Regions from separate parts of the Homo sapiens genome. Here region 1 is linked to region 2. The links come from fine-mapping of genetic effects on gene expression. Tissue or cell type: esophagus mucosa. Region 2 holds a variant in brackets; the other region holds the start of a gene. All regions are shown on one strand. Distances are from middle to middle.

What was found. PIP is the estimated chance that this variant, and not a neighbour inherited with it, causes the effect.
Region 1: LAMTOR5 starts here. The variant in region 2 is fine-mapped to the expression of LAMTOR5 in esophagus mucosa (GTEx, PIP above 0.99). The same link has a PIP of 0.9 or more in sun-exposed skin.

Annotation. Positions count from the first base shown.
Region 1 is chr1:110,403,766-110,409,980 of GRCh38, forward strand. It overlaps LAMTOR5 (late endosomal/lysosomal adaptor, MAPK and MTOR activator 5), which reads right to left and starts at 3,929. Exons shown (of 4, transcript NM_001382293.1): 1 at 3,821-3,929; 2 at 2,553-2,614; 3 at 154-271. The coding sequence starts at 3,855. It overlaps LAMTOR5-AS1 (LAMTOR5 and SLC16A4 antisense RNA 1), which reads left to right and starts at 4,044. Exons shown (of 3, transcript NR_102697.1): 1 at 4,044-4,189. RefSeq lists an enhancer at 3,871-4,100.
Region 2 is chr1:110,378,746-110,385,686 of GRCh38, forward strand. It overlaps SLC16A4 (solute carrier family 16 member 4), which reads right to left. Exons shown (of 9, transcript NM_004696.3): 3 at 4,089-4,221; 4 at 2,907-3,050; 5 at 2,237-2,398; 6 at 108-611. Among named protein-coding and RNA genes, the nearest start is that of SLC16A4, 8.8 kb to the right of the region's middle. The variant C/T (reference allele first, on the strand shown) is at 4,843.

The DNA of each region.
Region 1 (6,215 bases), 25 kb after region 2:
ATCAACTTGTCTGTTCCTGTGATTCAAAAGATTAAGAACTTTTCCCAAAGTAGTCTGAATAAGGAATCACTGATGAACACAGGGCCGGCCCCCGCCAATTTTACCAGGAATTTTTCTGAACAAAAAGGAAAGGATCTGCTGAAATCTACTCACCCATTATCTGATTCTAGACACACCACAGGAATATCAGTGGGGTCAGAGGTTAGCTTAGCTGCTTGCTGGGCTAGAACAGATATCACTCCAGCATGCTCATCTGACAGGGTCCCGCGGCCTGGAAAATAGAGATGATATATGTCACCTGATTGCTCATAGAGTATTTCTGCTAAAATAAGCTAGCTGGCTGTTTTAAAATGTCTACAGAATTGTCTTTTTATTAATGTCTGTATTAGTCTGTATATATTATAGTAACTAAATCTCGGGTACAAAAGTACCTATAAATTCTAGGTACGAAAATTAATTACTAAGTGTACTTTACAATATATTTCTGTATATAAAGGCAACACAAAGTTAACTGTACCTGAAACCAAATCAGGTAATAGACATGCCACTATGGCAGAGCATTTGGATGTACTATTACTATACAAAACATTTTGACCAGATCCGATGCCGACGTTTGAGCCTTGAAGGTTTCTTGAAGGAACTCATTTAGTTTTAGATTTCCATACCTGAATTTCAGTCTTTCCATTAGTAAGCCTAGCAAATGCTTCCAAAAATTTACCCTTTTTCTCCCAAATGACTGATCTGCATGTTAAACATAACTGAGTTACACCGATTACCTCTTTCAGTTACCCTTCCAGCAAAAATTCAGAGCTTTAAACATTCCTGCATTAGGAGCAACAAGTCTTGGGTTTACTAGTTGTCACTAATTAACTGAATGCTTTACTTATTTACCTTTCCAAACTTATTTCCTCATGTGTAATTGCTACCATTTATTAAGTATTATGTCTCAGTTCTATGTAAGCATTTTATACATATTATATAACCTTAAAATATCGTGATTAGGCCGGGTGTAGTGGCTCATTCCTGTAATCCCGCACTTTGGGAGGCGGAGGTGGGTGGATCACCTGAGATAAGGAGTTCGAGACCAGCCTGGCCAACATAGTGAAACCCTGTATCTACTAAAAATACAAAAATTATCTGGGCGTGGTGGCAGGCGCCTGTAATCCCAGCTACTCAGGAGGCTGAGGCAGGAGAATTGCCTGAACCTGGGAAATGGAGGTTGCAGTGAGCCAAGATCGTGCCACTGCACTCTAGCCTGGGCGACAGAGCAAGATTTCGTCTCAAAAAAAAAAAAAAAAAAGTGATTAAGAGGCCTCAGGGCCAGACAAAAATCCTAGCTTAACGACTTACTAGCTGCATGACCTCAGGCAAGTTATTTAACCTCTGTGTCTCAGTTTCTTTTTTTATTTTTTGAGACAGAGTCTCGCTCTTGTCATCCAGGCTGGAGTGCAATGGTGCAATCTCGGCTTACTGCAACCTCTGCCTCCCAGGTTCAAGCGATTCTCCTGCCTCAGCCTCCCGAGTAGCTGGGATTACTAGCACCTGCTACCATGCCTGGCTAATTTTTTTTTGCATTTTTAGTAGAGATGTGGTTTCACCATGTTGGCCAGGCTAGTCTCGAACTCCTGACCTCAGGTGATCCACCCGCCTCCGCCTCCCAAAGTGCTGGGATCACAGGTGTGAGCCACCGCATCCGGCCTCTTTTTTTAAATTTTAAAAACATATATATATGTTTATTGTAAAAATAGAGATGGGGGGTCTCACTGTGTTGCACAGGCTGGTCTTGAACTCCTGGGCTCAAGTGATCTGCCCACCTTGGTCTCCCAAAGTGCTGGGATTACAGGCGTGAGACACTGCACCTGGTCCCTCAATTTCTTTTTCTACCTCACTGGGTTGTTATGAGGAATAAAAGAGTATATGTAAAGCACTTACAATGGTGCTTGGCACATAACAGCTCAATAAATATAATTCTATGATTATTACCATTATCAAATAACAACCCAGTGAAGAAAATGAGGGCCTAAAAGGTAGTTTTTTGGTCCACGTTCACACTACTAACAAATGAAAGAGCAAGGGATTGAGACCAGGTATGTCCAACACTGAAATCCCATTTTACTGCCTATTCACTTCTTGTTTAGTGTAGTTGAGCTTCAAAATTGTACACCACCCACCTTGCCGGGTTGTTGTGAAAATTAAAGATAATGTATTTAGAGCCTAGCAGTCTCAGCATATGGCATACATTCAATAAATGGTTAACAGCTGTTATTATCTGAAGTCCTTTCTAGACTCAATTTAAAATGATTCAAATATTATTTTTAGTAGAGACAACTATTTATTGTTATAGGACTGCAAGGAACATCTTCCTTCATAAATACCAACTGAAAAGTTTCAATTTTCTGATACTGTTATTTGGAGATAATCTCTACTCTCAAACTCAGAAAGACCTGGCAAGGTAACAGGAAATAAAAGCTAGAAAATAATAGCACGCTAGGCTCCAAGTCAACATCAGATGCTATGCAATTCATCAAATAGTTGGTATGAGAGATACTTACAACCCAGATTAAGTCCTTGTGAATCTGTGCACAGGACTCCAACAATGGAGGGATTCTTCATTCTAATTCCAGGAACACAAGAGAGTTGAAGTACATAATGGGAGAAAAAGGATTTAAATAAGTACAAACATACAGGTGTTCTATGTACCAGGCATTAAGTGCTTTAAATCAATATTTCTCAATCTTTTTTCATTGTCACACCCTAAGAAAAAAATTAAGTTCTAGGGCCGGGCGCGGTTGCTCACGCCTGTAATCCCAGCACTTTGGGAGGCCCAGGTGGGCGGATCACCTGAGGTCGGGAGTTCAAGACCAGCCTGACCAACATGGAGAAACCCCGTCTCTACTAAAAATACAAAATTAGCCAGGCGTGGTGGCGCATGACTGTAATCCCAGCTACTCGGGAGGCTGAGGCAAGAGAATCGCTTGAACCTGGGAGGCGGAGGTTGCAGTGAGCCGAGATCACGCCATTGCACTCCAGCCTGGAAGACGAGCGAAATTCCGTCTCAAAAAAAGAACACAAAAAATTTAAGTTCTAGTTAATTAATTGAAATAAACCAGTTTCTCTCTGATGAGAGAAAAAAATGTGCTAAGTACTGCTGAGTTCTGGAGGGCCACAAACACTGCGTGAAAAACATCTAGGATGTTTTCACTCTTGTTAAAAACGCATGTTTTAGTACTAACTCATTTAAAACAACTGTTGAAAAACTCAAGTTACCTCCTGGAGGGTAAGTGGAAGCTGAGGGACATCGGTGGGAGGCAGGTGTCTCTCTGTACCCTTTACACTTTTCCAGTTTTGAATTTTACATAGATACTGCTTGTTCGAAAAATTTAAAGAATGATTTTTATCTACTTAAGCACCAAGTAACTGATAGGTTACACACAGGAGATACGTGTTTGTTTACACTGCAGGGCTCGACACTGCACAACTGGCACAATCTTCCCAAAAGTCAACCCGTTTTCTAAAACTTCCGCAGAACCACCCTGACCGTAAAGACGATTTCAACAACGAGATAGGCAGTTTTGGCCCGTGGCCTGGGCCCGGGAGACTCGCTCAAGAGGGAATGTGCGGTGCCCGGCAGGATTTTAATTCCGGGTCACCCGCCCCGCCCTGCGGCCTTGGGTAGAGTTTAGCCCCCTCATCCCGTGTCCCGGGGGTCGCGCGACGTCCCCGAGACGCCCTGGCCGGTACTCGCAGCTCGCGCCTTTCGTTCCGCTCAAGTTCCTCCGCCGCGACCTCAGGACAGGCCGAAGAGGCGCGCACTACTCACGTGTCTTCCAAGTGCTGCTCCAAGGTCGCCTCCATCCCACCCACCGACCACTCCGGCTCAGAACCCAGCGGCACGGCACGTCCTTCTCCACCACAGGCCTCAGTCACTTGACGCGAGCGGGGCGTGGACCGTAACGGCGCCTCCAAAGGGACAAAATTGATCACGGTGCAACGTCCGCGTTCTTTACTGGAAAACATCACTGCGCTTCCGTCGCACAGAGCCTGACGAAGGCTTGGGCTCCCCGCGCGGTGACCGTCGAGGTGACCTGCACCTGGCTCCATGGCGGAACCGGCCGGCACGGATTATTCCCCTCTCGGGAGAGGTCTGCAGCCGGGCCTCAGTGCTTCAGTTCGTGGCCTGGCATTTTGTGTCAGTGTTTTTTAACCTTTGGACCCTAGTTCAACCGACTCCGAGACCTAGGGGACAGATCTTAAGTTTTACAATAACCCAGGGGTCAGACAGGGTCTGATCTAGCCTGTGGGGCAAGTACGGGGAAGACACGGGACCTCTTGGAGGGGGTCAGTAGGCTTGTAGGGGGAAAGACGCACACAGAGACTAAAGGACGAGATGGAGCAAGGTTCAACCCCCTAGCTGAGTGTTGGCAGTGTCGGGATTTTAACGAAGACATTGGTGCTTATTATGGTGAGGGGACTCAGGACAGTTTAGGGGAAGAGAGTGGCATTTGAGTCCTAACTCGTAAGGAAGACTGGGTAGGACTACTTGAAAATAACTTTTAAAAATTAATTATAAAGCTGGTAAAAATAGGAAAACATCTATGGCCCCACTGTCCAAAGACGACTTTTAACTTCTTGGAGAATATCCTTTCAGATAGTTGTCTTTGTAAATGTATACTTTTAATGTTTTTTCGTTTGCCTTTTTAAAATAAATTTTTTGGGGGACAGGGTCTTGCTCTGTTACCCAGGCTGTAGTGCAGTAGAACGATTATAGCTCATTGCAACCCGGACGTCCTGGGTTCAAGCTATCCTCACCTCTCAGCCTCTCGACTGGCTAGGACCACAGCCTCGAGCCATCATGTCTGGCTAATTTTTACGTTTTTTTGTAGAGATGGGGGTCTCGCTGTGTTGTCCAGGCTGGTCTTAAACTCCTTGCTTCAACAGATCCTCCCACTCCAGCCTCCCAAAATGTGATTACAGGCTGAGTCACCACGCCTAGCATGGTTTTTTTTGTTTTGTTTGTTTTGTAAGCAAAATTGACATACATACTGGAGGTACAATTCTGTAGCTGGCCTTCTTTACAGAGTTTAGAATAAATGTCTTTCCATGTCAAGTTTTCACTTACATCCTTTGTAGTAGTTGCAAAATATTCCATTTTATAGCTGTATCTTAATTGTGGATTAAGGTTGGAGTGCAGTGGCACTATCATGGCTTAGTCCAGCCTCAGCCTTCTAGGTTCAAGCGATCTTCCCACCTCAGCCTCCCAAGAAGCTGGGACTACAGGGACCCGCCACCCCACCTAGCTAATTAAAAAAAAAATTGTAGAGATGGAGTCTCAGTGTGTAGCCCAGTCTCAAGTGACCCTCCCTCGTTGGCTTCCCAAAGCGCTGAGATTGCAGGTGAGCCACTGTACTTGGACTTTTTTTTTTTTTTTTGCTTTTGTTTGTTTTTTGTTTTAGCTATTACAATGCTGGTTGAATATCCTCATAGCTAAATATCTGTGCAGTTTTAAAATTTCCTTATAAGTTACTAGAAATGGAATGACTGGGTTAAAGGACATGATCATTTTTTAAGACTCTTGATACATACTTACAAATTGCCTCCCGAAAAAGTGGTGCTAATTTACTCAAATTGGTAAGCCTCACCCCCTCTGTGGATCATTCCTTGCACTAAGTTTCTTCCAACTCTGTCACCTCCAGCTTTTTACTCACAGCCTACCTTCCAATCTGGGGCCCAGCTCCCAGATCGGAAGATACCAGACTTTGGTATTGAACCAAAGTCCAATACACTGCACTGGCATTCAGAGTCCCTTTTTATTCCGCAGCTGTCATAGTGAAGCTTGCAGCTTCCTTGAAATTCCAGTTTGTTTATTTCTTTATTTTTTTGAGACAGAGTCTTGCTCTATCGCCCAGGCTGGAGTGCAGTGGCGCCGTCTCAGCTCACTGCAACCTCTGCCTCCTGGTTCAAGCGATTCTTCTGCCTCAGCCTCCCGAGTAGCTGGGATTACAGGCATGCACCACCACACGTGGCTAATTTTTGTGCTTTTAGTAGAGATGGGGTTTCACCATGTTGGCCAGGCTGGTCTCAAACTCCTGACCTCAAGCGATCCGCCCACCTCAGCCTCCCAAAGTGCTGGGATTATAGGCATGAGCCATTGCACCCAGCCAAAATTCCAGTTTGAATGTTATAATTCAGGGGTCTTGGACTCCTGCTCTAGAGAA
Region 2 (6,941 bases):
TACAATTCCTCTTTTGTTTTTCTTTAGCTTTTTATTAAAATGTAATAAGCTTGTAAAATTAAGTTGATCTTTCCTTTTGGGTAGGAGGCTGATGTAGGCTTTCTTACCTGCTACAGAAACAAGGTAAGAGGCATCCATGATGTCAATCCCCAGTGTTTTGGCTCTGGCTACCAGGTGAAAGGTAGGGATGAAGTATGCTAACTGACTGAGGAGAAAAGACCAAGTAAATATGTAGAAGAAAGGATTTCTAAAGAGAGAAATGTCAAACAGTTGTTTGCAGCTCCACGAAATAACCTTATCACTTTCTTCATCACTCTTTAATAACAGTCTGTTCCTGTTAGGCCCATTGTAGAACTCTTCACTTTGATTTTGTGAGACTGTTAAATTTTTGCTAGGTAGTCCAGCCTTCTGCGTAGTACTGTCCTTGATGGTAGACTCTTCTGTCTCATGGCAGTGTGTTTCTGTTGCATGTGCCTCTGGACCATGTGCAGACAAACTGCTGCCTTTATCTTTAATACCAGAATTGTTCTCACTTTTGATATGGATGGGTCTTAAGAGCATACTAGAAGGCACCAAATTCAATGCGATAGCTCCAAATAATATAAGGGCTCCTAAATAGGGAGAGATTGAGCAATTAAAAATAGCCTTTCAGTTCACAATACTGCTTTGTGTTCATAGGCTCAGAAGAGGCCCCACTGGCATAGCCCATTAATTCTTGAAAACATTACTTTGTCTCCGATTTGACTTATTAGTCATATACACTGCTGTATCCGTGTAATAATGTAGTGCTTTGGAGATAGAAAACCAGAAAGCTGCACCAATAGATGGGATAAAAGGAGAGATGGTGGTTATTTGTGTTAAGGGGGGTAGGGGGGGCAAGTTTTTGGAGGGAGAGGAGAGTGTTTCAAATGCTAAAAAATTAAATAGAAAATTTAAATATCCTGAAGTGAGAGTACAGATTTAGGTACAGAAAAAATAGAATAAGATGAAAGAAATCATTTGGAAACAGCCTTAGAAGAGGGGACAGCTGGCCAGGTGCTATGGCTCATACCTGTAGTCCTAGCATTTTGGGAGGCTGAGGCAGGCAGATCACTTGAGCCCAGGAGTTCAGGACCAGCCTGGGCAACATGGTGAAAACCTGTCTCTACAAAAAATACAAAAAAATTAATTGATGTGGTGGTGTGCACCTGTAGTCCCAGTTACTTGGGAGGCTGAGGTGGGAGGATCGCTTAGCCTGGGAGGTGGAGGTTGCAGTGAGCCGGTATCATGCCACAGCACTCCAGCCTGAATGACAAAGCGAGAGAGCCTGTCTCAAAAAAAAAAAAAAAGCAGCGGGAGGGAGGAAGGCATGGATAGCCTTTCATCCCATGACATTTTTTAGATCTTCCTTAAAAGATGACAGATGCTAATCTTGCCTTTGGAGCTGAATAGTTGCTTGCATTCAGCGTGTCCTGATCAAAGCTATGATTTGTATGGTGCTTCTAAAGATAGAATGGGCTATAGGTTCTGCTATCCTATCATGGATTTGTCAGCTGGTCCCATTCACCATGAGACTACTGAATAGTTAGGAAAGATTCAACAAAACTGCCATGTAGATAGCAATAGGCATATGAATACACACATATACATGTATTTTTTCCAGTAGTTTAGGATTATTTTAATCCAAATGTCTTAGTTACAAAGAAAATTGTGAGTTGAATCATTTTTTATTCATTTGTGAAAATTTATAGTTGACATTACATAAACTCTTAAGGAACATACTCTTTTTACCAAAGTATTTGTTTCTTTTTTATCTATTTCAGTGAGTCCGATGGGGGAGGAGTTTTTTTAAATGCAGATTTTTGTCTTAAAGGGAAAATGGGAAAAGTGAGGGTTTTTGATGGGGCGGGGGCGGGGGGGGAAGGGGGAAGCCTTATTTCCCCAGAAGTATCGCTTTTACTGCAAGCTGTTTCCAGCTGCACGGAATGCCCTCCATCTCCTCAGACATTGAGCCCTATGGTGAATTCTGAGTTGCTTGTGTGAGCTGGCAAAGCCTGCAAGTATTTCAAGATCTCTTTTGCGTATGTATTCTCCAGGGAAGAGAAGCATGTTTACTTTAGAAATTATGCTCATTTCCTCTCTTGCAATACCTTGTGAAATCGATTGCTCTGAAAGTCTTAACTTCCATTTCTCAAAGGGAGAAAGCTGAACGCTAAATCTTGCACAGTTGATAGTAAATAAACTTAGAATGACGTACCTGTCCAGTCATACAGATCTATCAGGAATTTTGTAAAGGGTGCCAAAAGAAAAGTCAGTCCCATCCCAGAACGGGCAATAGCTGTAGAAAGAGCCAATCGTTTTTTGAAGTATTTGGTAGTTACCACAGCAGCCACTTGGTATAAGAAAGCAGAACCCAAACCTAAAAGAAAAACGTAATAGTTTAGAATCACTCTTACATTAAGTGGCTTGGTAACAGAAAAGATAATCTCCTGGATCCGAGATAATACAGCTAGGCCTTTTGGACCCAGGAACAGTAGAAGGGAAGAGTCCTGTTCCATCTTCTATCTTCTATGGATGGATGCATATATACATACACACACACACACACATATTTTGAGACAGGGTCTCACTTTGTCACCCAGACTGGAGTGCAGTGGCACAATCTCGGCTCACAACAGCCTCAGCTTCCTGGGCTCAAGCAATCCTCCCACCTCAGCTTCCCAAATAGCTGGGACTACAGGCATGTGCCACCACTGGCCTGGCTAATTTTTGTATTTTTAGTAGAGACAGGGTTTCACCATGTTGCCCAGGCTGGTCTCGAACTGGACTCAAGCGATCCACCCACTTTGGCCTCCCAAAGTGCTAGGATTACAAGTGTGAGCCACCACTCCTGGCCTTCTATGGTCACATAATTACAATGGACTCACCGGGTAGAAGTCCCATAGTCACACAAAGAAAAGGAATACTTGTGGCCCAGCTGCTGATCAGATATCCACCAGTAACAACGAAAGCCCCAAGAATGGAGGTAGTTTTCTCTCCAAGTATGTCACAAATAATAGCAACCAGGGGACCTTAAGAGAAGAAAGAAAGGCAATTCTTAGGTAAATAATGATCTGGCATCCCTTATCCTCTGATGGCGATTTAAATGAATGACAAGGAAAGCAAGAGGACTGTTTACTTTGAAGTATTACGTATTCTTCAAAAAAGATTTTCATATCGGGTTTCTTAATATCACTAGTGCCACACTATTTTAGTTTTTGGAAGGGGAGTTTAAAAGGAAATGTTGATTGTAAGTAAGGTTTGGAGGGGAGGTGATTTGAAATGCATTATAGAACCTCCACAAAAAGATTGCATCTAGTGGTCAATGACTAGAATAAGGTTGAATCACTTATCTGCTCTTCCACCCTGTTACAGCTCCAAATAAAAGGAGAAGAAATTGGTTCTATAATTTGTTTTGAGGCTGGACGCCGTGGCTCTTTAATCCCATACTTTGGGAGGCCAAGGTGGGCAGATCACCTGAGGTCTGGAGTTTGAGACCAGCCTGGCCAACATGGTGAAACCCCATCTCTACTAAAAATACAAAAATTAGCCAGGCATGGTGGCGGGCGCCTGTAATCCCAGCTAGTTGGGAGGCTGAAGCAGGAGAGTTGCTTGAACCTGGGAGGCAGAGGTTGCAGTGAGCCGAGATAGCACCACTGCACTCCAACCTGGGCAACAGAGTGAGACTGTGTCTCAAAAAAAAAAAATAAATAAAATTGTTTTGAATATACTTAGATAACTAGAACTTCATGGCCTAACTTCCAGGTTGAGGGCCTTACTCATTGAACCTATATTAAGGCATTAACAGACTGGAAAGGCAATGCATGAAATACTGAATCATGGCATTTAATAATTCCTCAGCTTTCTTTGTTTGAATGCTGATTCTCCCAACTTTGTTACTAAGTCAAGTGGAAGCTAAATATTGCAATTCCTTACTTTCTCAGCGTTACATATCAGTAAATGAACCTTAATTTTAGAAACTGAATTCCTATTCAGTCTTGAATAGGAATCTTGGAATTGCCCTTTGTGGTTCTTCTCCTTAGACAGCAAGCTTATTGCCAGCTTTATACCTGCACAAAAACGAAGAGATGACATGATGGATCCAATCCAACCAATTTGCTCTGAGGTGCCTTCAAACTCTTCTTGAAAGACCACAAAGAAAATTGCAAAAGTCTTGGTCATCCCCATCACAAACACATTCACCTAAATCAAAGCAGACCAGAGTCCAACTCAGGTGGTAAGTGAGCCATTACAGAGGCAATTACGGCTACTAGAAGTTATGATTCCCTCAGCTTACTACTATTTACCAGTTTGCCTTATTGGTTGAGCCTCATTATACATCTTATATTTTATGGGGGAAGTCATTCCTTTTAAAGTAGCTAAGCATTTTAAATGGAAACATCTCATTTAATCCTCATTTCATGGCTTTGGAATAGGCATGCCAATGTTGTGTACCAAATAATTTATACCAAATAAACCACCCAGTGGGTTCATCTTGCCTGCTGCCTAGATACAGTTGATTTATCAAGACAGGAATTGCAATAGAGAAAGAGTTATTCCCACAGAGCCCATTGTGCAAGAGACTGGAGTTTATTAGACCAATCAGTTTCCCCGAGCTTTTGGGGATCAGAGTTTTTAAGGATAATTTGGTGGGTGGGAGGCCAGTGAGTTGGGAGTGCTGATTGGTTGGGTCAGAGATGAAATTCTATCAAAGCTGCCCTTTTGCGCTGAGTCACTTCTGGGTGGAAGGGTGGAGGGGGACCCACAACCAGATGAGCCAGTTTATTAATCTGGGTGGTGCCAGCTGATCCATCAAATGCAGGG[C/T]CTGCAAATTATCTCAAGCACTGATCTTAGGTTTCACAATAGTGATGTTATCCCCCGAGCAATTTGGGGAGGGTCAGTCTTGTGGCCTCCAGCTGTATGACTCCTAAACCATAATTTCTAATCTTATGGCTAATGTGTTAGTCCTACAAAGGCAATCTAGTCCCCAGGCAGGAAGGAAGTGTTTTTTTTTTTTTTTGGAAAGGGCTGTTAAAAGGAGGTTTTTTTTTTTTTTTTTTTTTTTTTTTGGAAACGGCTGTTAGTTTCTCTTTCAAAGTTAAGCTATCAACTAAGTTTCCCCCAAAGTTAGTTCAGCCTACGCATGGGAATGAACAAGGACAGCTTGGAAGTTAGAAGCAGGATGGATGGAGTTGGTTAGGTCAGATCTCTGTCACTGTAATAATTTTCTCAGTTATAACTGCAACAGCAGTTCCAAGATCAGGAAATTGAAGTTTAGAGAGGTAAAAAGTTGCTTAAAATAGGGGTACTGGAACTGAGATTTGAACCCAGATTAGACTGACTCTAGACCTGGCACTCTTTTACTGCCCTCAGTAGCATCTGTTAAAGACAGCTAATTCCAGTTACCTTTGTGGGAGAAAAGTGTTTGTCCAAAGAGGAATAATTATTCCTGTCAGTTCTTAGATTAGTTTTGATTTAACTCTGCTGCTGAGCTGAGTACCTTCCTTCACTAGATATATAAATAGGTTGACCATAAAATGTATCATCCAAATTGAGACACTCAAGAGTGAAAAGGGGTGCTTAATTTTGGATTAACTGGGATTTGTGGCCATCTTAAGGTTGGGCCAGGGGCCCCATCCTTTTCTTTCTGCCCCACCTAATCTTCCTTACCTGTACTCCACTAGAATTGCTGCTTTGGAGATGAGGTTTTCTTTCTGTGGAGTATTAACTTTTATTTCTCAGAATTCTAGTTAGCCGGGGGGCTGTTAAGTGCTATTCCTTCTTTCCGTTTTTAAGTAACAGTCATGCTTTATCCCACAGGGGTCTAGAGGGGAACCTAGCCAGGGTTTGCATTCACTCGTAAAGCCCAGGTGTACTCTCTGTCTCCAGGGGTTTCGTAGCGTTGGCTTTTCAAGGCCACTTCTGCTTTCAACCTGGCCATGCATTGCTTATGAACCACAAAACCAGCTGGGCATGGAGGCTCCTGCCTATAATCCTAGTACTTTGGGAGGCCGAGGTGGGTGGATCGCTTGAGCCCAGGAGTTCAAGACCAGCCTGGGCAACATGGCGAAACCCCGTCTCTACAAAAAGTACAAAAAATTAGCTGGGCGTAGTGGTATAACACCTGTAGTCCCAGCTACCTGGGAGGGTGAGGTGGGAGGAACACCTGAACCTGGGAGGTCGAGGGTACGGTGAGTTGTGATCACACTACTGCACTCCAGCCTGGGCGACAGTGAGACCTTGTCTCAAAATTAATAATAATAAAAGAACCACAAAGCCTTAGGTTCCCCTTCATTAATTCCACTTTCTCGGCCCGCCTGTTACAGTTCTGTACTCATCTCGCTTGATATCTGCTCCCTGGACAATCATTTACTCTCAAGGTTTTAATTACCACCTGCATACTTATGGTGGTGTAGCTGAACAGGGTTCTGCAATCAGTCTGCCTTAACTTGCATCCAGGCTGTTCTTCCTACTGGGGCGTGACCTTGGGCAAACAACTTCGCACGTCACATGGGTTAAGCTTCCGCTTTTATGATGGGGGAGGCGGCATTGGGGATGAAAATATTACCTAGCTCATAAGACTGTGAAGATTAATTGAGAAAATTCTGATAAAGTACTTAATATTTGGCACTTAACACTCAAACAATTAACTGTGGTTTCCATTCTGCTTTCCCAAGAGCTTCAGACTCCTAATTGTCTACCATATCTTTATAACTTCTGGTCAACTTGTCCAAACATAAACTCACATTTCCCTTATCCTATGCCTACTCTTTTCAGTTTTTTCTATTGGTACCATCCACCCATTCATTTGAGTGACAGATGTGCTTTCTCTTAGACACCTCCCTCCCTCAGCCCCTGCTTTTAAATAATGGTCAAGACCTGCCCCCTTCTTTTCACCCCATCACTACTGGCGATGCTCAGAA